Linked DNA regions of Homo sapiens. The protein of the gene in region 3 interacts with the protein of the main gene of each other region in a biochemical or structural test. Each region holds a gene or a part of one and is shown on either strand. Other genes may lie near its edges.

Evidence for each region.
Region 1: of the proteins of CSNK1G2 (region 3) and CLSPN, one has a biochemical effect on the other in vitro, tested with the Homo sapiens proteins (one study listed by BioGRID).
Region 2: the proteins of CSNK1G2 (region 3) and PPP1R14A form a complex in vitro, tested with the Homo sapiens proteins (one study listed by BioGRID).

The regions. Positions count from the first base shown.
Region 1 is NC_000001.11:35,731,963-35,738,984, forward strand, and holds the end of CLSPN (claspin), read right to left. Parts: intron 6,621-7,022; coding exon 6,493-6,620; intron 6,136-6,492; coding exon 6,030-6,135; intron 5,460-6,029; coding exon 5,377-5,459; intron 5,114-5,376; coding exon 4,952-5,113; intron 4,645-4,951; coding exon 4,534-4,644; 3' UTR 150-4,533; downstream 1-149.
Region 2 is NC_000019.10:38,253,359-38,260,845, forward strand, and holds the start of PPP1R14A (protein phosphatase 1 regulatory subunit 14A), read right to left. Parts: upstream 3,017-7,487; 5' UTR 2,982-3,016; coding exon 2,781-2,981; intron 1-2,780. UniProt on the Homo sapiens protein: Inhibitor of PPP1CA. Has over 1000-fold higher inhibitory activity when phosphorylated, creating a molecular switch for regulating the phosphorylation status of PPP1CA substrates and smooth muscle contraction.
Region 3 is NC_000019.10:1,972,161-1,979,182, forward strand, and holds part of CSNK1G2 (casein kinase I), read left to right. Parts: intron 1-2,948; exon of another isoform or gene 2,949-3,911; coding exon of another isoform or gene 3,912-3,954; intron 3,955-6,144; coding exon 6,145-6,185; intron 6,186-6,281; coding exon 6,282-6,351; coding exon of another isoform or gene 6,352-6,441; coding exon 6,442-6,590; intron 6,591-6,698; coding exon 6,699-6,933; intron 6,934-7,002; coding exon 7,003-7,022. UniProt on the Homo sapiens protein: Serine/threonine-protein kinase. Casein kinases are operationally defined by their preferential utilization of acidic proteins such as caseins as substrates. It can phosphorylate a large number of proteins. Participates in Wnt signaling.

The DNA.
Region 1 (7,022 bases), on a different chromosome or scaffold from region 3:
AATTTCTTTTTTCTGGGAGCTACTGGCAATTTCTTATGCTTACAGAGTGGCACTTGACATAATGCACTGACATACATTTTCCAACTGAAGCCCCCCAGCAACTCTGAGACAGCCATGACTTAGTATCCTCATTTTATAAACAGAGGCTCTGAAAGGTGTAGTGTTATTTATTCAAACTGTGGTAGGCACCACTACATTCCAAGCTGTGTGCCAGGCGATGAGTAGGATATAAGGGTAGAAGATACAATACCATCTCAAGGATGACATAATCAAATAGTATCATGGGAACACTCCTCCCAGAAATACTCTCCTCTATCCTTAGGAGCACAAATCCCAGGACAGGATGCCACAAGAGTGATTAGACATAACCCTAGGAGATAAAAACCAAAAACACCCCCTAAAAAGTCTCCCAGCCTGAGCATTAGAAACTCTCAAAGTGAGGAGAAGTTTGTAGAGAAGCAGTTGAGAAAATGAGGGATGCCACAGAGATCTGAGTACCTTGTCTCTAGAGCTTTGGTGAATAAAATCTTATGGTTTATGGAAGAGACCCTAGTATGGCTGTGCAACTGTGAATTAATGAGATGAAATTAGAGACCTGTTTAAAGAGGTTAATACCATGTATCCCTACTCAAGTGTATGGAACAAGGAAGAAACAAAAACACTGACACTGAGCCTACCCTATCTCCCACACTCATGGGCTCTCATCCCTCCAAATATGTAATTTCCAAGCTAGTGAAGCTGAGTCCTCCTCAGAGCCATAGTGGCAGGTCCTGGGGCTTCAATTTCATTAAAACATAACTGATGCTGCTGGCTCAGTGCTTTGGGCAAAGGGCATATGGGTCAGATTGAAACTGTCCATGTCAATCCTGTTACCAAGATCAAGGCTTAGCTTACTTTATAGCAGCCATCCTGGCATAAGGAAAAGTAACCCAGAGTTTGACTCAAGTTTTCTTTCTCCAAAGAGTGCTTTCTCCCAGGAGCCTCAATCAGAAACCATTTTCTTTCTTTCTTTTTTTTTTTGAGAGGGAGTCTCACTCTGTCGCCCATGCTGGAGAGCAGTGGCGTGATCTCGGCTCACTGCAACCTCTGCCTCCCAGGTTCAAGCAATTCTCTTGTCTCAGCCTCCCAAGTAGCTGGGACTACAGGCACCTGCCACCACCAAGCCTGGCTGATTTTTGTATTTTTAGTAGAGACGGGGTTTCACCTTGTTGGTCAGTCTGGTCTCCAACTCCTGACCTTAGGTGATCCAGCTGCCTCAGCCTCCCAAAGTGCTGAGATTACAGGCATAAGCCACCACGCCCAGCCCAGAAACCATTTTCTCCCTGGATTTCTCAGGCACTAATTTTCTTTTTTTTTTCTTTTTTTTTTTTTTTTTAGAGTTGGGATTTCACCATGTTTCCCAGGCTGGTCTCGAACTCCTGAGTTCAAGCAATGCACCCACCTCAGTCTCCTAAAGTGCTGGCGTGAGCCACCGGACCTGGCTGAATTTTCTTATCCTCAGTTGTCAATTCCAATTGTCTTTTCTATCTCTCCTCAAAAGACATGTAGGGAAACAAGAGGGAAGAAATATCTAGCCTTCCTGCTCAGTTCTCTTTTGCCCAGCAAGGGCTACTTTGCCTTGGGAACTGTTTAGAGAGTTCAAAGAAAGAGGCAAAAACATGTATCTTGAACCCATGGATAAAATGAAGTACATACAAACTTAGCTAAAGAGAAAGGCCAATCAAAGCTGTAACAGGCTGGGCATGGTGGCTGAGCCTGTGACCCCAGCATTTTGGGAGGCCAAGGTGGGAGGATTACTTGAGGCCAGGAGTTCAAGATCAGCTGGGGCAACACAGCAAGACCCTGTCTCTACTAAAATAAAATAATTAGCTGGGCATGGTGGCATATGCCTGTAATGTGGCCCAGCTATTCCAAAGGTTGAGGAAGGAGGATGCTGAAGCCCAGGAGTTCAAGGGTACAGTGAGCTATGATTGTGCCACTGCACTCTAACCTGGGCAACAGAATGAGACTGTCTCTAAAAAATAAGTTTTTTAAACAAAGAGCTATAATAGAAGGTACCATTTATGTAAACTCAATTATCCTCTTCACCTGAGCTGAACCCAAACCACTTGGTAAGTTAACTTGATCAATTCACTAGGACTGAGAAGCCAGTGAGGGGACAATTGCAGCAGCTTCTCAGTTTAGACCCAGAGGGTTTCCCTGGGATGGAGATAACCTGAAAATGAAATGCTCCTCAAGGTTAGACAGGCACTGACCCAAGAATGAGCATTCAAGCTGGACAGCAAATCTTCCCTTCAAGGCATTAAGATTTATTGAAAAACTACATACATATTAAAACATCTTTATACACATTTTCCCCATTATAAGATTACAAGTATACAAACATAAGTATTGTCAAAGTCAACATCTTGAGTATTAGAAAACTGTAGAAAACCGGCCGGGTGCGGTGGCTCATGCCTATAATCCCAGCACTTTGGGAGGCCGAGACGGGTGGATCACCTCAGGTCAGGAGTTCAAGACCAGCCTGGCCAACATGGCGAAACCTCATCTCTAATAAAAATACAAAAAATTAGCTGGGAGTGGTGGCAGGTGCCTGTAATCCCTGCTATTTGGGAGGCCGAGGCAGAATTGCTTGAACCTAGGAGGCGGAGGTTGCAGTAAGCCGAGATCATGCCATTGTATTCCAGCCTAGGTGACAGAGCCAGCCTATGTCTCAAAAAAAAAAAAAGAAAAGAAAAGAAAAGAAAAAGAAAAAGAAAAGAAAAGAAAAACTGTAAAAAACCTACAACCTAATTGCATCAATTAAATTGGTGTTCCCATCTCCCAGTAAAAAACTGGCACACTCTCTTCCAACTGCCCAAGTACAGGTCCTGACACTGAAACCACAGTATTCACATGGAATGTTTTTCCAAAGCAGCACTGATGCTCAGTTCTGAGGGGAAAAACATTTGTCTAAAATTCTGAGAAGCTTGTGGTAGTTCAGGGAAAATGGAGAATGATGGCAATTCTCTTCAATAATATTTTTATTAAATTCCATGGTGGCCTTCTCTCAAAATTAGTAATGAAATGCTGAAATGTCCATTGATTAGTGAGGGCAATGTATGTAAGCCAGAAGAATGCAATAAATAAGGGTTATGTTTCTTCTTGTCAGACCCAGAAGGGAGATCTTTGAACAACAGTGCTTCAAATTGAGAATTCAGTCCCAGGAAGGGTCTCTCTGCCCCACAGACTGTGGTGGACAAACACTGGGTGTAACACTTTATCTTCATCCCCAAGCCCCAGAAAATTAGAGGCAGAGTCTTTCTGACTTGGGTACCAGTTTAAGTCCTTATTAAGCAGCAAAAATTAATTCAAAATTTGATGCTGCCTTGGGAAGAAGCATACAGGAAAATGAAAGGGGTAAGAGTAATACAGCAGCCCATCTGTTGGTTCCTAGGTCCTCCATCTAAGAAATCGTTCTTTTGGCTGGGCACAGTGGCTCACGCCTGTAATCTCAGCACTTTGGGAGGCTGAGGCAGCTGGATCACTTGAGGTCAGGAGATCGAGACCAGCCTGGCCAACATGGTGACTCCCTGTCTCCACTAAAAATACAAAAATTAGCCAGGTGTGGTGGCATGCACCTGTAGTCCCAGCTACTTGGGAGGCTGAGACAGGAGAATCACTTGAACCCGGGAGGCAGAGGTTGCCGTGAGCCGAGATTGCGCCACTGCACTCCAGACTGGGCAACAAAGTGAGACTATCTCAAAAAAAAAAAAAGAAATCTTTCTTTCACCGAGCCCTGGTCATCATGGTACGTATCTCATGGGTGTAAAGGAGTCATTATGGTACTGATTTTCACTGTTTAATCTGTAATGTCACACTTTTCCCTACTCTTCCTCTTCCAACCACTTCTATCAATCACAAAGAGATATTAACCCAGAAAGCTGCTACAATAAAATGTCAAATGTCTAATGGAGGAAGTGAAACCTAACCCAAGGCCAGGTGCAGTGACTCATGCATGTGACCAGCACTTTGTGGGGCCGAGGTGGATGGATCATTTGAGGTCAGGAGTTCAAGACCAGCCTGGCCAACATGGTGAAACCCCGTCTCTACTAAAAATACAAAAATTAGCTGGGCGTATTGGCACATGCCTGTAATCCCAGCTACTCGGGAGGCTGAAGGAGGAGAATCGCTTGAACCTGGGAGGCAGAGATTGTGGTGAGCCGAGATCACGCCACTGCACTCCAAGCTGGGCAACAGAGTGAGACTCCCATCTTAAAAAAAAAAAAAAAAAGGAAACCTCACCCAAGTATTCCATGAGTTGTTGATGTTGTAAATACTGCAGAATTGAAATCAGTGGCCAATTCAGGGAATAATACTAGGAAAAGAGATGTCCAGAGCTGTGCAGTAGAAATCACTGGAATTTCTGTCTGCAATCTTATTGCATTGATTATGAAAGAAGGAAGGATCATTGGCTGGAGTGTCAATTCCAACTTTCAGTGCTAGAAACTTCTCAAAGCAGTCTCAATGTAGATTTTGGCACCTTTGATGGTGTTAGCTCTCCAAATATTTGAAGATGCTTCGCGTCAATCCTGAAGTGCTATCATCTGTTTTGAGGTGCTTAGGTGAAGGAGAAGTCATGAAAGATGGACCCCTTTTCTTTACCTAGAGAGCAGAGAGGGAGTCAGGGCCAGCTAAAGACCTTCATACAAGTATTTACCTTCAATTAGCTCTCAAGCAACTCATAAATTGTGGATGATTAACAACAGAAAAAAAGAAAGAAAGATAAACTTTCTCGGCAAGTTTAAAAGTTGATTACCGACTGGGGTAGCAATTCTCTTGTACCTTATCGGGGAGTGCAAGATTTCAACATTGCAGCATAGAGGTTAAGCCAGAATTTTTGTTTTTAAATTTAAATAAATGAATAAATTCTGGTTTGGGAAGCCACCATATTAGTTCTCAAATTCCATACCTGAGACTTAGACGATTCCTTTGCCGCCTCAGCCTTGACAGGAGAAAGTGTATGAAAGACAAAGTTTCTTGAATTTCGAGGAGCACTGGGGTTATGGTCAGAGAGAGCAGCCAGTTTCTGAAGCACAGCTTTGGGCTGGTTTAGCAGTGAGCCTGTCTTCACCTGAGGAAAGAAGAGTCATCTGGTATCAAATCCCAAGTGCCAACTAAAGAATGAAAAGTCCTTCCCTCCCTGCTTCCCCCTAGATATTGAGGGTACATATGCCTACCCTATTCAAATAGAAAAGAAATAGCAGACTCCTTTGACATTAACTTTTTCCCTGCAGCCACCTCCTTCCTCTAATGACAGAGACTATTCTCTAAGCTGGACCTGGGCCTTTATAACCTGTAGACTATGATGTCAGATTAACAAGGTTCCCAACCAACCTGTTGAGCACTTCCTGGTCTGATGGCTTCAAAAGGATTTCTGAGCAAAGACTTTGATTCCTGAATAACCATAGGGCGACTGGCTGGAAAGAAAAGACAGAGAGGCCTATTCTGGGAAAAGCTGATTAGAATTACTTTTAAATCTAAACAAGCTAAGAAATCTTGTAACTAAATCAATATGCTAAAGCCATGGGAACTCTGTTCTATATAATGGTGACTTTCAAACTATAATAATTGGCTCCAAGAAGAGACACAACTAAGTTGAACAGTAATCATTTAAGAAAAACAGAAGTGGTCAGTGTAGGGAATAGTGAAGAGCTTCATTTCTGGAGTTAAATATTCCTGGATTCAAATCCTACCTCTAACACTTAGGTATACAATCCTGGGCAACTAGAGAAAGCCAGAATTAACTACTCTGAGCCTTAGAACATAAAGTAAAACCAGCCACATATACTCATGAATACAGTCTCTACTGCCCAATAGTCTAAGATCTAAGTACACTGTCTCCCACCACCTCTGTGAAGCCTCTTTAAGACAGTATTAGACACAAGCTTATGATTAAGCTGCAACAGCTCCTGAAGGTTAGAGTCACCTCCAAAGCTCTACCACTAACAATCCAGGGGGCTAGACCCTAAGGAGAAACAAGAGCTCACCATTCTTCTGCAGTGCTTTGGCTGTAACTTTCTTGGCCAGTATCATAAACTGACTGTCCTCCCCAATTTCTTCTTCTTCTTCAGCTGTAATTTTCCCCTGCTGTGCCTGAAAAAAAAAAAAAATATATATATATATATATATATATATACAGCATTAAAAGTCTATAACCTTCCTAAATAGTTAGCATGGCCTGGATTGTGAAACTAGAGTTCCTGGGGTATTTGTTTTCCTTTTTGCAGCCTTTGCTGCTTTAGACAAAAAAAAATTAATCTTAGACAAACATGAAGAGAACTGTCTATGGTATAGCCTTCTCAAAACACAAAAGATAGCTCAAGGATTAAAAGAGATAGCAATATGTTGCCTAAGATTTTGAAACTATCATGACAAGCTAAGATTTTGAAACTATCATGACAAGCTAAGGGACAGTCTCATAAACTAGGGTCAGAGTAGGTGAACTCCTACCATGTCCCGAAGCCACTGCTCTCGTTCAATTCGCTCCTTCCTCCACCTGGCTTCTGACTCATCAAGCTGTTCTTCAGTCTGATCATCATCAGAGTCTCTGTGGAACAAGTCCATCTGGGAAGCATCATCTAAACAAAGAGTGAAGGTAATCAGCATTCGGCAGTCCTCACAGGAGAGGGTGCTTGGACAGACAAAAAATAAACCCTTATCATTTACTATATAATGATGTAAACTTTTCCCATCCATTAACAGAAAACAGTTACAACTAGGTCTTCACATAGCCTGTTATAGTTTTGCTTGCCATTTGCCATCTGAAACTCGACAAATATGCATTGTAACTGTTTGCTTTTTTTTTTTTTTTTTTGAGATGGAGTCTCGCTCTGTCGCCCAGGCTGGAGTGCAATGGCATGATCTCTGCTCACTGCAACCTCCGTCTCCCGGGTTCACGCAATTCTCCTGCCTCAGCCTCCTGAGTAGCTGGGATTACAGGCGCGTGCCATCACAGCCTGCTAATTTTTGAACTTTTAGTA
Region 2 (7,487 bases), about 36 Mb from region 3:
TAGGTGCAGGGGAGGAGAGGCTGGCAGCCAGCAGCCAGCTGGGGCGGCCCCTTCCCCCAGGGGACAGGAAGGGAGGGGACAGGAAGGGAGGGGACGGCTTGGGCCAGCCCCCAGAGGGCCAAAATGCAGCCTGGTGAGACCGAAGGGAGGACCACCGAGGCCCCTCAAGGTGGGTGGGTGGGATGAGTCATGGCTCAACTCAGCTGCTAAGAGCGGGGCGCTGAGTGTGGCCTCTACAGGCAGTGGCCCAAGCGCAGGCTGGCTCAGTACCCCTGCTGGGAATAGGACCCAGCTGTCCCCAGCTGTCGAGGGAGCAAGAGAGCCTTGGGGTTATGAATCCTTTCCTCCCCAACCCAAAGTCCGGCTGTCGGCTTCAGGCCTGGGGCTTCAGGGCTGGATGGTCCTGGTTCATGTGTGGTGAAGGGGCTTCAGCAAGGACACAGGTGTGTGAGTCTCTGCCAGGGCCACAGCCTGATGCCAAGGGCCTGGGGCTGGCCGAGGATGCAGAGGGACCTGGCATCGTGCAGTGGCTTCGTATAGTGGACTGTGGTCCTGCAGGTGTGAGGTGTGTGGCTCTGGCTTGGGTGTGTGACACATCAGCATGTGTCCACAGTCAGCTGTGGGGCCCACCACCTGAGAATGGCCTCATAGATGCCACCTGCCACTAGCAACCAGATTGGTTCACCTGTATGGGCCCAGGTGTGAGTCTGAGAACAGAGGGACTGCATGTCACCATGGGAGAAGGGCCATGCCTTCCACCATTGTCGCACCATGAAGAGGAGGACTCGTGGGTCCTGTGTACACTGTAGCATACAGAAGTCACAGAAGGCCAGGCGCAGTGGCTCACGCCTGTAATCCTGACATTTTGGGAGGCCGACAAGAGAGAATTGCTTGAGCCTAGGAGTTCAAGATCAGCCTGAGCAACATAGCGAGGCCCCATCTCTTTTTCTTTTTTCTTTTTTTTGAGACAAAGTCTCCTTCTGTCACCTAGGGTGGAGTACAATGGCGCGATCTTGGCTCACTGCAACCTCCGCCTCCCGGGTTCAAGTGATTCTCCTGCCTCAGCCTCCCAAGTAGCTGGGATTACAGCTGCCTGCCACCATGCCCGGCTAATTTTTGTAATTTTAGTAGAGACAGGGTTTCACCATGTTGGCCAGGCTAGTCTCGTACTCCTGACCTCAAGTGATCTGCCCACCTTGGCCTCCCAAAGTTCTGGGATTACAGGCGTGAGCCACTGTGCTCGGCCAATGAGGCCCCACCTCTAAGGAAAAGAAAAAAGAAGTCACTGAAAGTGTGACTTCAAGCAGAAACTCAAGTGATGAAGTACCTGTGTGTGTCAATACATGTAGCTGTGGCTTAGGCTCTTGTGTGCCTGTGAGCAGCGGTGGGTTCTGCAGTTGTATGTCCACCTGTTCCTATAGCTTACAGTTTTTTGTTTGTTTGTTTGTTTTTGAGACGGAGTTTCGCTCTTGTTGCCCAGGCTGGAGGGCAATGGCGGGATCTCGGCTCACCGCAACCTCCTCCTCCCGGGTTCAAGCGATTCTCCTCCCGAGTAGCTGGGATTACAGGCATGTGCCACCACACCCGGCTAATTTTGTATTTTTTAGTAGAGACGGGATTTCTCCATGTTGATCAGGCTGGTCTCAAACTCCTGACCTCAGGTGATCCGCCCGCCTCGGCCTCCCAAAGTGCTGGGATTACAGGCGTGAGCCACCGTGCCCGGTGCTTACACAGTTTTATGTCTGGGTGTAGTTATAAATTCTGTTGGGTTTTGTTTGTTTTTGAGACACGGTCTCGCTCTGTTGCCCAGGCTGGAGTGCAGTGGTGCAATCTTGGCTCACTGTGACCTTGGCCTCTCAGGCTCAAGCAATCCTCCCACCTCAGCCTCCTGAGGAGCTGAGATTACAAGTGCGTGCATGCCACCACGCCCGGCTAAGTTTTAAGATTTTTGGTAGAGACAGGTTTTCCCCATGTTGCCCAGGCTGGTGTTGAACTCCTGACGTCAAGCAATCCTCCTGCCCCGGCCTCACAAAATGCGTGAGCCACTGTGCTGGGCCAATTTCTGTTGTTTTATGTCTTTGAGTGGCTGCGGATCAGCGCTTGTGCTTGAAGGTGGTCAGTTTTTTCTTTAGGAGATAAGGAAGGGCCGTAACTTGAGTCATTTTGTGTTCCAGTGGGGTTGTGCTGTGTCTGCCTACGGCTGTGGCCCATGCCGCTGTGTCTGCGGGTGGCTGTGACTGTAGCATATGTTGAACTGTAGGTGACCCCCCCCCAGCCCCCGCTTGTGTCCTTGTGGGTTTGTGCATGGCTGTTACTTCTGGGCTGTGTCCGTGAGTGGCTATAGCTTCCTTCACTGTGCACATCTGTGTCTGCTTTTGCTTCCTTTGCCGTGGGTCTCTGTGTGGCTGTATCTCCCCTGTCACCATGTCTGTGTTTGGCTTTATGACACCCCCCTTCCCCCACTCTTTCTCCAGACGTGGCGGTTTCAGCTCAACTTAGCCTCCTCCCTCCTCATGCTAAACCCCTGGCCCTCCACAGGCGTTTGGACACATCTCTGGAGACCCAAGTCTTTGTGTGTTGCTCTCGGTGTGTCCACAAGCACAATGCCATAGAGCACGGATGGCCAGGCCAATGAGTGCCCGGCCCTGGGGCGCTCGTCCTCTTGTGCAGACCAGGCTGGCCGTGCACCAGCGAGTGTGCACCGAGACCCCAAGGGCGTGGGGTCTCCGCGCCCGGGCTCTATCTGTCCCCGACCACCCCCGAGCCCTCCCCGGGCTCACCATGCCGCGGTACAGCTCCTCCAGGCGCCCGTCGATCCACTTCTCCACGTCCAGCCGCCGCTGCAGCTCCCGCCGGTCATACTTGACGGTGACGCGCGCGTGCCGCTTCTGCAGCCCCCCGGGACTGCCCCCTGGCCCGCGGGCCCGCGATGGAGACTGCAGCTTGCTCAGCACGCGCTTGCCCAGCCGCTGAGCTGCCATCGCGCTGCTGGACCCAGCCTGGCCCCGCGCTGTGCGCCTTCGCCTCGCGCCCCGGGTGCTTCTTACGGGCCAGGGCGGGGCTAGCCGGGGGCGGGGGCTCGGGCTCGCCGGGAGGTCTGCCCCACCCCGGCCGCCTCAGGCCTCAGTTTCCCCGTCTGCAGTGCGAGAGTAGGCCGCTGCGTCGGCTTGAGGCACGCAGTCGTGCGAAGTTGAGGTATGGGCGGGGACCCAGAGTCCCGGGCGGGTCCCTGCATCGGGGGCTCCCGGGCCGGGATCCTGTGGGGCGGGGGCCTGGGACAGACACTCGGGACCCGGCCTGTCTGCGCCCTCTGGCGGTGGCGGGGTGGGGGGCTGTTGGTGCGGGAGCGCCTGCGCCGCTGTCGCTGTAGAAGGTCGAGCGGTCACTTGTTCCTTCGTTCATTCATTCACTCATCCATCCATTTGTTTGTTCACTCATTCCGTTCAACGAATTTTTTTTTTTTTGAGTCGATGTCTCTCTTTGTCGCCCAGGCTGGAGTACAATGGCGCGATCTCGGCTCACCGCAACGTCCGCCTCCCAGGTTCAAGCGATTCTCCTGCCTCAGCCTCCGAAGTAGCTGGGATTACAGGGATGCACCACAACACCCGGCTAATTTTTGTATTTTTAGTAGAGACGGGATTTCGCCATGTTGGCCAGGCTGGCCTCGAACTCCTGACCTCAAGTGATCTGCCTGCCTCCGCCTCCCAAAGTGCTGGGATTACAGGCGTGAGCCACCGCCACTGGCCCGGTTCAACGAATATCTATTAAGTATCCACTCTATACCAGACACTGCTTTACGCTCCAGGGATAGAGCAGGGAACAAAACAGACAAAACCAGTCCCACGCAGTTGACAGTTGTAGCCGGGATACATGAGAAACACAGTAAGTACGGTATTATACAGTTTATTATCATATAAGTGCTTTGGAGAAATATAAAGCAGAGAAGGAGAAATGGAGTGAGGGTAAGGTTGCAATTTTAGCGAGGGTGGCCAGGGAAGTCCCTTACTTCAAAACAGTCTTCTCACTTCTAATTATAAGCAGCAATAATTATACTCTAAAATTTAAATGTGGCTGGGCGCAGTGGCTCACTCCTGTAATCCCAGAACTTTGGGAGGCCAAGGAGGGTGGATCACGAGGTCAGGAGTTCAAGACCAGCCTGGCCAACATGGTGAAACTCCATCTCTACTAAAAATACAAAAATTAGCTGGGCCTGGTGGCACATGCCTGTAATCCCAGCTACTCGGAAGGCTGAGGCAGGAGAATCGCTTGAACCCGGGAGGTGGAGGTTGCAGTGAGCCAAGATAGCACCATTGCACTCCAGCCTGGGCAACAAGAGCGAGACTCTGTCTCAAAATAAATAAATAAATAAAATAATAATAAATAATTTTTTTAAAAAGGCCAGGCATGGTGGCTCATGCCTGTAATCCCAGCACTTTGAGAGGCCGAGGTGGGCAGATCACGAGGTCTGGAATTCAAGACCAGCCAGGCCAACATGATGAAACCCCATCTTTACTAAAAATACAAAAAAAAAAAAAAAAAAGCCAGGCGTAGTGGTGTGCACCTGTAATTGCAGCTACTGGGGAGGCTGAGGCAGGAAAATTGCTTGAACCCAGGAGGCAGAGATTGCGGTGAGCCAAGATCGCACCACTGCACTCCAGCCTGGGTGACAGAGCAAGACTCCATCTCAAAAAAAAAAAAAAAAATTGTAGAGACAGGGTCTCCCTATGTTGCCTAGGCTGTTCTCCAATTCCTGGGCTCAAGCGATCCTCCCACCTCGGCCTCCCAAGGTGCTGGGATTATAGGCATGAGCCACCTCACTCCACCAGCCAGCCATAATGTAAAACTTTTGAGTTTCAAAGAACATCATCAAGAAAGTGAAGAGACAACCCATGGAATGGGAGGAAAAAAATTGCAGTCATGAAACTCATAAGGTGCTGGGACGAGCCACCACACCTGGCCAAACTATACACTTTAAAAAGGTGAGTTGGGCCAGGCACAGTGACTCACGCCTGTAATCCCAGCACTTTGGGAGGGCAAGGCGGATGGATCATCGGAGGTCAAGAGTTAGAGACCAGCCTGGCCAACATGGTGAAACCCCATCTCCACTAAAAATACAAAAATTAGCTGGGCATGGGGGCACATGCCTATAATCCCAACTACTCAGGAGGCTGAGGCAGGAGAATCGCTTGAACCTGGGAGGGGGATGTTGCAGTGAGCTGAGATCATGCCATTGCACTCCATCCTGGGCAACAAAAGTGAAACTCCATCTCTAAATAAATAAAGGGTGAGTTGTATGGTATGTGAGTTATATCTCAATAAGACTGTGTTTTTTTTTTTTTTTTTTTTTTTTTTTGAGGCAGAATCTCGCTCTGTTGGCCAGGCTGGAGTGCACTGGCATGATCTCAGCTCACTGCAACCTCTGCCTCCCAGGCTCAAGCAATTCTCCTGCCTCAGCCTCCCGAGTAGCTGGGATTACAGGGGTGTGCCACCACGCCTGGCTAATTTTTGTATTTTTAGTAGAAACGGGGTTTCACCATGTTGGCCAGGCTGGTCTTGAACTCCTGACCTCAGGTAATCCACCTGCCTAGGCCTCCCAAAGTGCTGGGATTACAGGCGTGAGCCACCGTGCCCGGCTTCAATAAAGCTGTTTTATTTCAAAATTAAAAACAGGCCAGGCGCCATGGTTCACGTCTGTAATCCCAGCACTTTGGGAGGCTGAGGTGAGTGGATTATCTGAGGTCAGGAGTTTGAGACCAGCCTGACCAACATGGTGAACCCGTCTCTACTAAAAATGCAAAAAAAATTAGCCAAGCATGGTGGTGCACCCCTGTAATCCCAGCTACTCAGGAGGCTGAGGTGGGAGAATTGCTTGAACCTGGGAGGCGGAGGCTGCAGTGAGCTGAGATCGTGCCATCACACTCCAGCCTGGGCGACAGAGAAAGACCCCATCTCTAAAAAAACAAAAATAAAAAACAACTATCCATAGCTACCCATGACCTTCAGTCTAAAGGCCAAACTCTGGTTTAGCAGTCCCATCTCTGCCAGGGACAGTCCCATTTCAGCACCAGCACCTTTCACTCGCAGTTCCCTCTGCCAGGAAGGTTCTTCCCTAGAATATCATCAGGGCTCACTCCTTCACCTCCCTCCAATGTCACTGTTCAGTGAGGTCTTCCCTGGCCACGCTATTTCACACTGCAACTCTCGTGCCCCTCATCCAGCTCTGTTTGATACATAACACTTACCACTTTCTAACATTATATATATATATATATATATATATATTTTTTTTTTTTTTTTTTTTTTTTTTTTTTTTTTTTTGAGTTGGAGTCACCTCAGGCTGGAGTATAGTATTGTGATCATGGCTCACTGCAACCTCTGCCTCCTGGGTTCAAGAGATTCTCCTGCTTCAGCCTCCTGAGTAGCTGGGACTACAGTTATACACCACTGTGTCCGCTTACTTTTTATATTTTCAGTAGAGATGGGGTTTCACCATGTTGGTCAGGCTGGTCTCGAACTCCTGACCTCAGACGATCTGCCCGTCTTGACCTCCCAAAGTGCTGGAATTACAGGCATGAGCCACCATGCCTGGCCTCTAACATTATATATAATGTACTCATTTAATGTATTGTCCATGCCAGGCGTGGTGGCTCACACCTGTAATCTCAGCACTATAGGATGCTGAGGCAGGAGGAGCAATTACATCCAGGAGTTCAAGATCAGCTTGGGCAACATAGTGAGACCCTGTCGCTACAAAAAAAAAAAAAAAAAAAAAAAGCCAGGTGCAATAGTACATGCTTGTAGTCCCAGTTACTCTGGAGGCTGAGTTGGGAGGATCACTTGAGTCCAGGAGATGGAGGACGCAGTGAACTGTGATTGCACCACTGCACTCCAGCCTGGGTGATGGAGTGAGACCCTGTCTCAAAAAGAAAAATGTCATATTTTCTGTTCTGTGCAGTGACAGAAAAAAAAAATTATTGTCTGTTTCCCAACTAGTAGCATACTAAAGGCAGGGGGACAGGACTGGTCCACTTTGGGTACAGGCAAAAAGAGGGTGCACTGTCTGTAGAGAATTTAAAAATAAAAAGCTGACCAAGGCCGGGCATGGTGGCTCATGCCTGTAATCCCAGCACTTTGGGAGGCCAAGGCAGGCAGATCACCTGAGGTCAGGAGTTCAAGACCTGCCTGGCCAACATGGTGAAACCCCATCTCCATAAAAATACAAAAATTAGCCGGGTGTGGTGGTACAAGCCTGTAATCCCAGCTACTTGGGAGACTGAGGCAGGAGAATCGCTTGAACCCGGGAGGTGGAGGTTGCGATGAGCCAAGATCGTGCCATTGCACTGCAGCCTAGGCGACAGACAGAGTGAGACTCCATTTCAAAAAAACTGACCAAAAGTTGGTCTAATTTTTATTTTACTTTGCAGTGACATTTCTAAACAGTGTCAATGATAAAATAGTCCTCCCCAGGGAAGAAACAGAAACAAAAA
Region 3 (7,022 bases):
GTTTCTCAGGGGTGCCGGGAGGCCGTCCATCGGAGGACACACCAGCCCTTCTTCATCTGCTCCCAGCGCAGGGACGCTTGGCTGTTTCTGGATTTGGGCCCTTCTGAATAGAACTAACTGCCCAAATAGAACTGAATAGCACTGGGCTCCTCGAGCACTCCACGTCCCCAGCACTCAGGACTGTTGGTGGCTTTGATGTTGAGCCTGTTGTGGACTCCGGTTGTTGAATGTTGTTCCGTTGTCTAGAATGTTCTAGAATGTGTCGTTTTTTCTGTTTTTAAGGTTTTTATCTTTGATTTAAAATATTGACTATGCTCTCCTTAGATGAGGCTTTCTGTTTTTATCCTGCTTGGGATCCACTGACTTCTTGGATCTCTGTGTTGGTACTTTTTCAAATTAACTTTGGAAAAATGTGAGCCATTATTTCATGAAACGTTTTTCCATCTCAGCTTTGCTTTGCTTTGTTTTGTTTTGTTTTTGAGATGGAGTTTCACTCTTGTTGCCCAGCCTGGAGTGCAGTGGCACCATCTCGGCTCACCACAACCTCTGCCTCTCGGGTTCAAGCAATTCTCTTGCCTCAGCCTCCCGAGTAGCTGGGATTACAGGCGTGAGCCACCATGCCTGGCTAATTTTTTATATTTTTAGTAGAGATGGGGTTTCACCTTGTTGGCCAGGCTGGTCTTGAACTCCTGACCTCAGGTGATCCACCTGCCTCGGCCTCCCAAAGTGCTGGGATTACACATGTGAGTTACCGCGCCTCGCCTGCTTTGTTTTTTTTTTTTTTTGAGACAGAGTCTCGCTCTGTCACCCAGGCTGGAGTGCAGTGGCGTAACCTCAGCTCACTGCAAGCTCTGCCTCCCAGGTTCGTGCCATTCTCCTGCCTCAGTCTCCCAAGTAGCTGGGACTACAGCCGCCCGCCACCACACCCAGCTAATTTTTTGTATTTTTAGTAGAGACGGGGTTTCGCCGTGTTAGCCAGGATGGTCTCCATTTCCTGACCTCGTGATCTGCCCGCCTCGGCCTCCCAAAGTGCTGGGATTACAGGCGTGAGCCACCGCGCCTGGCCTTGCTTTGGTTTTTTGAGACAGAGTCTCACTCTCTTGCCCAGGCTGGAGTGCAGTGGCGCGATCTCGGCTCACTGCAACCTCCGCCTCCTGGGTTCAAGCAATTCTGCCTCAGCCTCCCAAGTAGATGAGATTACAGGTGCCTGCCACCACGCCCAGCTAAATTTTTGTATTTTTAGTAGAGACAGGGTTTTGCCATGTTGGCAAACTCCTGACCTCAGGTGATCTGCCCGCCTTGGCCTCTGAAAGTGCTGGGATTACAGGCGTGGGCCACCATACCCAGCCTTGCTCTCATTCCTGGGTTCTGGTTCTGCGTGTGACAGGAGTGCTTGGCCCTGTCCCCAGGTCCCTCAGCCCTGGCTGTTTTCCGTCTGCCTCTGTGCTCTCCTGGTGTCAGGCTGTGCGGCTGCTGCTGCTGCTGCTTGAAAGTTTACTCTTTTTCTGCAGCCTCCAACCCCAGAAGTCCATGTGGTGAATCTTTGATTGCTTAGTGGCATTTTTCGGTTTCGTCTGATTGTCCATTCGCTCTCAGCTGAGATTTCCCATGTGCACATTCACTTTGGCCATCTTTTCCTTTAAATCTTTGAACATGTTTGTGCTGTTTCTTAGTCCATTTTGTGCTGCTGTAACAGAATGCCACAGACTGGGTCATTTATTTTTATTTATTATTTATTATTTTTTGAGATGGAGTCTTGCTCTGTTGCCCAGGCTGGAGTGCAGTGGTACTATCTTGGCTCACCACAACCTCCGCCTCCCGGGTTCAAGCAATTCTCCTGCCTCAGCCTCCCGAGTAGCTGGGATTACAGGCGCCCGTCACCACACCCAGCTAATTTTTGTATTTTCAGTAGAGACAGGGTTTCACTGTGTGTTGGTTGGCTAGGCTGGTCTCAAACTCCTGACCTCGTGATCTACCTGCCTCAGCCTCCCAAAGTGCTAGGGTTACAGGCATGAGCCACTGCACCTGGCCAGATCATTTATAATGAACAGAAATTGATGGGCTCACCGTTCTGGAGGCTGGTGAGCCCCAGATTGAGGGTGGCGTCTGGCAAAGACCTTCTTGCCATGTCATGGCAAGAAGGCATGGTGGAAGGCAGGACGGCACAGACCGGAGGGGGCTGGATTCGCCCTTTAGTCAGGAACCCACTCCCCTGCTGATGGCATTCACTCATCCACGAGGGCAGCGACTCAGATCCTCTCTCTAGGCCCCAGCCCCAGCCCCAGCAGTGCTGGATTGGGGACCAGGTTCCCAACACATGACCCTTGGGGGGTGCATCAAAGACACAGCACTGTGTGGAGTGACGTCTGTGCTGCTTCTTCCTCCCTTGTCACGGTCACACCTCCCTCACTCACCTGTGGGACAGCCTCACTGGGCGTGGCCGTGGTGTGTGCCGTGAGGTGTGGAGGGTGCCGTCTCCCGGCTTGAGCGCTGAGTTTGTCCCCGTGGCTCACCTTGTTTCTGTCAGGTTGGTTTCAGCGTTGCTGGGGCAAGGCTGAGGGTAAACATGAGCGACTCCAAGGCCAGGGAGCCCTGTGCCAAGGTGTGGACCTTTTGGGTTCTCAGCTGAAGTAGAGAATCCAGGGAGGACCCCGCACTCCGGCCATTGGAGCTGTGGCGTCCTCCCTCCTGTGTGTCCCCCGGAACCTCCTGAGCCTCTCTGGAGCTGTTCTCTGCCAGGCCCCGTGGGCTCTCCTGCCCTCTGCATGCATCGCGAGTACTGCCGGAGGAGGCCCCTTTGGCTTTCAGAGCCCAGAGCGCCCGACCTCCTCCAGGAGTCTGCAGATCCACAGGCCTCAGATGCTGCCACACCCACCCAGCACACACCCAGGTCTCTGACACGCCAGCCGCACACAGCGGTGGGGTTCAGGCGAAGGTTTCTTCCACAGTGCAGAGTAGAAGAGCCGGGAAGGACCCCATCACCATCAGATGCATCAGAGCTTCAAAGGCCCGCCCATCAAGACGCTGCCAAGAGCATGAGGCCAGCCAGGCTGGGGAGGACGTTGGCGAGCATCCGCCTGCCCGTCAGGGAGCCACAGCTGGATGATACATCGACAGACAGCAGAGGGACGGTGTAGCACACAGGCGAGGGCTTGTCCTCCTCAGCCTGGGGGAGCGCAGCTCAGTGCTTGGTGGTCAGCACGTGACTGACACTTTGCCGGAGAAGGGGACGGCTGCCCGCAGGAAGAGCTACACAGCCGTGTTCGCCGGAACTCCGCTCTGGAGAGTCAGAACTGGAGACGGGAGGGCGTGCCTCAAGGGCAGATGGGCAAACCAAACCCCATCCTCCCTGTGAGCCGCGGCACAGCACCAGGCGGGCACACGCAGCACGACACGGCGAGGAGCCCACCGCAGGGGCAGCCTTTTGGGCGGGGAAGGGGGGATGAATCCACTGTGAATCCCACCTCCGAAGGGCAGCGCAGGAAGGACACGCAAATGCTGGACTGAACCTGCAGCTGATTCAGGGGGCAGTGTCCTGAGCTCTAAAACTTCAAACCTGGGGCAGTGTCCTGAGCTCTAAAACTTCGAAATCTGACCAGGCACAGTGGCTCACGCCTGTAATCCCAACACTTTGGGAGGCTGATGTGGGCGGATCACCTGACGTCAGGAGTTCGAGACCAGCCTGGACAACATGGAGAAAGCCCATCTCTAGTAAAAATACAAAAATTAGCCAGGTTGATGGTGCCTGCCTGTAATTCCAGCTACTCAGGAGGCTGAGGCAGGAGAATCGCTTGAACCCAGGAGGCAGAGGTTCCAGTGAGCCGTGATCGCGCCAGTGCACTCCAGCCTGGGCAACAGAACGAGACTCTGCTCCAAAAAGAAAAAAACTTTGAAATCCCTCTAAAAATAAAATGGACCGGTGGATGGTAGCTGTGAGGATGGACCGTGTGGCAGGTTTAGTTCTGGGGCCTCGGCAATGAGTGTTGGGTGTTTGGGGCACGGCTCCTGTTGTTTTACGAGGAGAATTTCCTAATAACGTGTTACACTGGGGAGAACGTAGGAGGGGAGCCCATTTGTTCTGAAAACGCGGGGACCAGCCCTGGTCCCCGGCTCAGGACTGGAGGGGTTGCCCTGGTCCCTGGCTCAGGACTGGAGAGACCAGCCCTGGTCCCGGGCTCAGGGCTGCAGGGAGGCACCTGGTCTTCCCTCGTCCTCACGATCCTGCACCCTCAAGATGCCACGTTGTTGAGGCTGTTTAGGGAACTTGACAAGCTGATTGGAAACTGTGCTGAAATAGAGCCCAGGTAGTGATGCGGACAGGGCAGTGCCAGAAGGAGCCCCAGCGATTCCTGTGCTGCAAGGCACGCCCAGGACGGGGCACTAGCCGGGGGAAGAGGCTCTCAGGGCCCAGGTGGGACCCCAGCCTCAGACTATGAGGTCATGACTGTGTACAGCTCAGCCACCGGGCTTTGGGACTTTGAATCCACCTTAGCAGGGTTTCCAAACCCATTGTCTCCACGGCCACCCTGCCAGTCCAGCTGCAGCAGGGCGGAACAAAGTGGAGGCCTCTTTCTTGCTTTCTTTTTTTTTTTTTTTGAGACAGAGTTTCTCTCTTGTTGCCCAGGCTGGAGTGCAATGGCACCATCTCAGCTCACCACAACCTTCACCTCCCGGGTTCAGGCAATTCTCCTGCCTCAGCCTCCCTGGTAGCTGGGATTACAGGCATGCATCACCATGCCAGGCTAATTTTGTATTTTTAGTAGAGATGGGGTTTCTCCATGTTTGTCAGGCTGGTCTCGAACTCCCGACCTCAGGTGATCCGCCTGCGTCAGCCTCCCAAAGTGCTGGGATTACAGGCATAAGCCACCGTGCCCGGCCACAGAGGCCTCATTCTGCAGCGTATGCTACTCGGGCAAAGGCAGCTGACTGCAGACCCAACACGGTGACCCAGCTGGATGGTGCCTGAGAGACGGGGCTGCCCCACATGGTGCCCTGTCATGCCGCGGGACAGGTCGCCCAGCAGATGGTAGCTATGGCCCCAGTGCCATCCTGGGCTGGAGACACATGGGTGCCAGACACGTTCATGCCTGTCGTCTGGCCCAGCTGCCGTGGGGAGCCCTCCAGGGCCGTGTGCCTGCAGGGACCGGCCTGTTCACCTCTAGGCTCACCCCTCGGGTGCTGAGTCACCACAGTGGGTGGGGCCGTGCCCCCTCCCAGGCCGGCTTCCACAGCTGCCCCTGCAGAGCGCCTCTGTGTTAAGGGCTGGCCGCCTCCTTCCTCAGGGGGTGTAACATGTAAAAAGCTGCACCCTGGCCTGTACAGGGGCTCCCGCCTGTTATCCCAGCCCTGTGGGAGGCTGAGGCAGGCAGATCGCTTGAGCTCAGGAGTTCAAGATCAGCCCGGGCAACTTGGAGAAACCCCGTCTCTACTAAAAATACAAAAATTAGTTGGGTGTGGTGGTGCGCACCTGTAGTCCCAGCTACTTGGGAGGCTGAGATGGGAGGATGGCTTGAGCCTGGGAGACAAAGGCTGCAGTGAACTGCGATCTCGCCACTACACTCCAGACTGGGCAACAGAGCGACACCGTCTCAAAAAAAAAAAAAAAAAAAAGGTTCTGGGCCTCGTACCTTCTGCGCTTTCATGAGACTCAGCCCTGGAAGTCCTATGTGGCTGGTGGCCCCAGGGAACAGGACCTGGGCTCCTCTCTTCTAACCCATGTGGGCCACAGGTCCCTGTCCATCTGTGCTGGGGCTCACCTGGGGGCCGAGGGCCTCGGGCATGTGGGAGATTTGTCTTTGAGAAAGGGGTGGAGGAGTGTGGAGCCCTTGGGGCTGCCTGCAGGCCGTGAGAGACCTCCCCAGTGCCGCTTCTGTCCTGGGCTAGGGAGGTGGGGGGGCGGGGGAGGAGGAGTGGCAGACACTGAGGCGGTGACCACACGGGCAGGGTGCAGGTGTCGGGATGACTTGGCAGGCCATGGTGCAGTGCTCTGGCAGGCTGGGCCCAGGCCCTGCTGCTGGGCAGTGGTGTCATTTGGAGGGTGGTCCTTCAGGGACCCCCTCCTGCCTCCTGCCTCGGGGGTGGGCTGGGGAGGTCGGGGCTAGGTGGGCCCTGCGCTGGCGGTGCTGATGGTCTCTGTCCCCGCAGGAAAGAATCTCTATACAAATGAATACGTGGCTATCAAATTGGTGAGTCGGCCCCTCCACCCCACCCCCGCTGACGTGCCCCCCAGGGATTTCAGGGCAGCGACCCGGTCCCCTGGTGACTCGCTCTTGTGCCCCCAGGAGCCGATCAAGTCCCGGGCCCCGCAGCTGCACCTGGAGTACCGGTTCTACAAGCAGCTCAGCGCCACAGGTACCGGGCGGCCCGCGGGTGGGGCGGGGGCTGCGCAGGGGCAGGGAGGGGGCTGCCGCCGCACGCCCGTGCGTCTGTCCTCCGCCGCAGAGGGCGTCCCTCAGGTCTACTACTTCGGTCCGTGCGGGAAGTACAACGCCATGGTGCTGGAGCTGCTGGGGCCCAGCCTGGAGGACCTGTTCGACCTGTGCGACCGGACCTTCACGCTCAAGACGGTGCTGATGATCGCCATCCAGCTGGTGCGCGGCGGGCGGGGCGGGGCGGGGCTCGGAGGGAAGAGGGTGGCCCTGGAGGGGAGCGCGTGGGACGGGGAGGGGCCCGGCCGACACCGCCGTGCCCCCCTGCAGATCACGCGCATGGAGTATGTGCACACCAAGAGCCTAATCTACCGGGACGTGAAGCCCGAGAACTTCCTGGTGGGCCGCCCGGGGACCAAGCGGCAGCATGCCATCCACATCATCGACTTCGGGCTGGCCAAGGAGTACATCGACCCCGAGACCAAGAAGCACATCCCGTACCGCGAGCACAAGAGCCTGACGGGCACGGCGCGCTACATGAGCATCAACACGCACCTGGGCAAGGGTGAGCTGCGCGCGCGCGGCGGGGGGCGGGCGCCCGGACCCCGCTGAGGCTGCGCCCCTGTCCCCGCAGAGCAGAGCCGCCGCGACGAC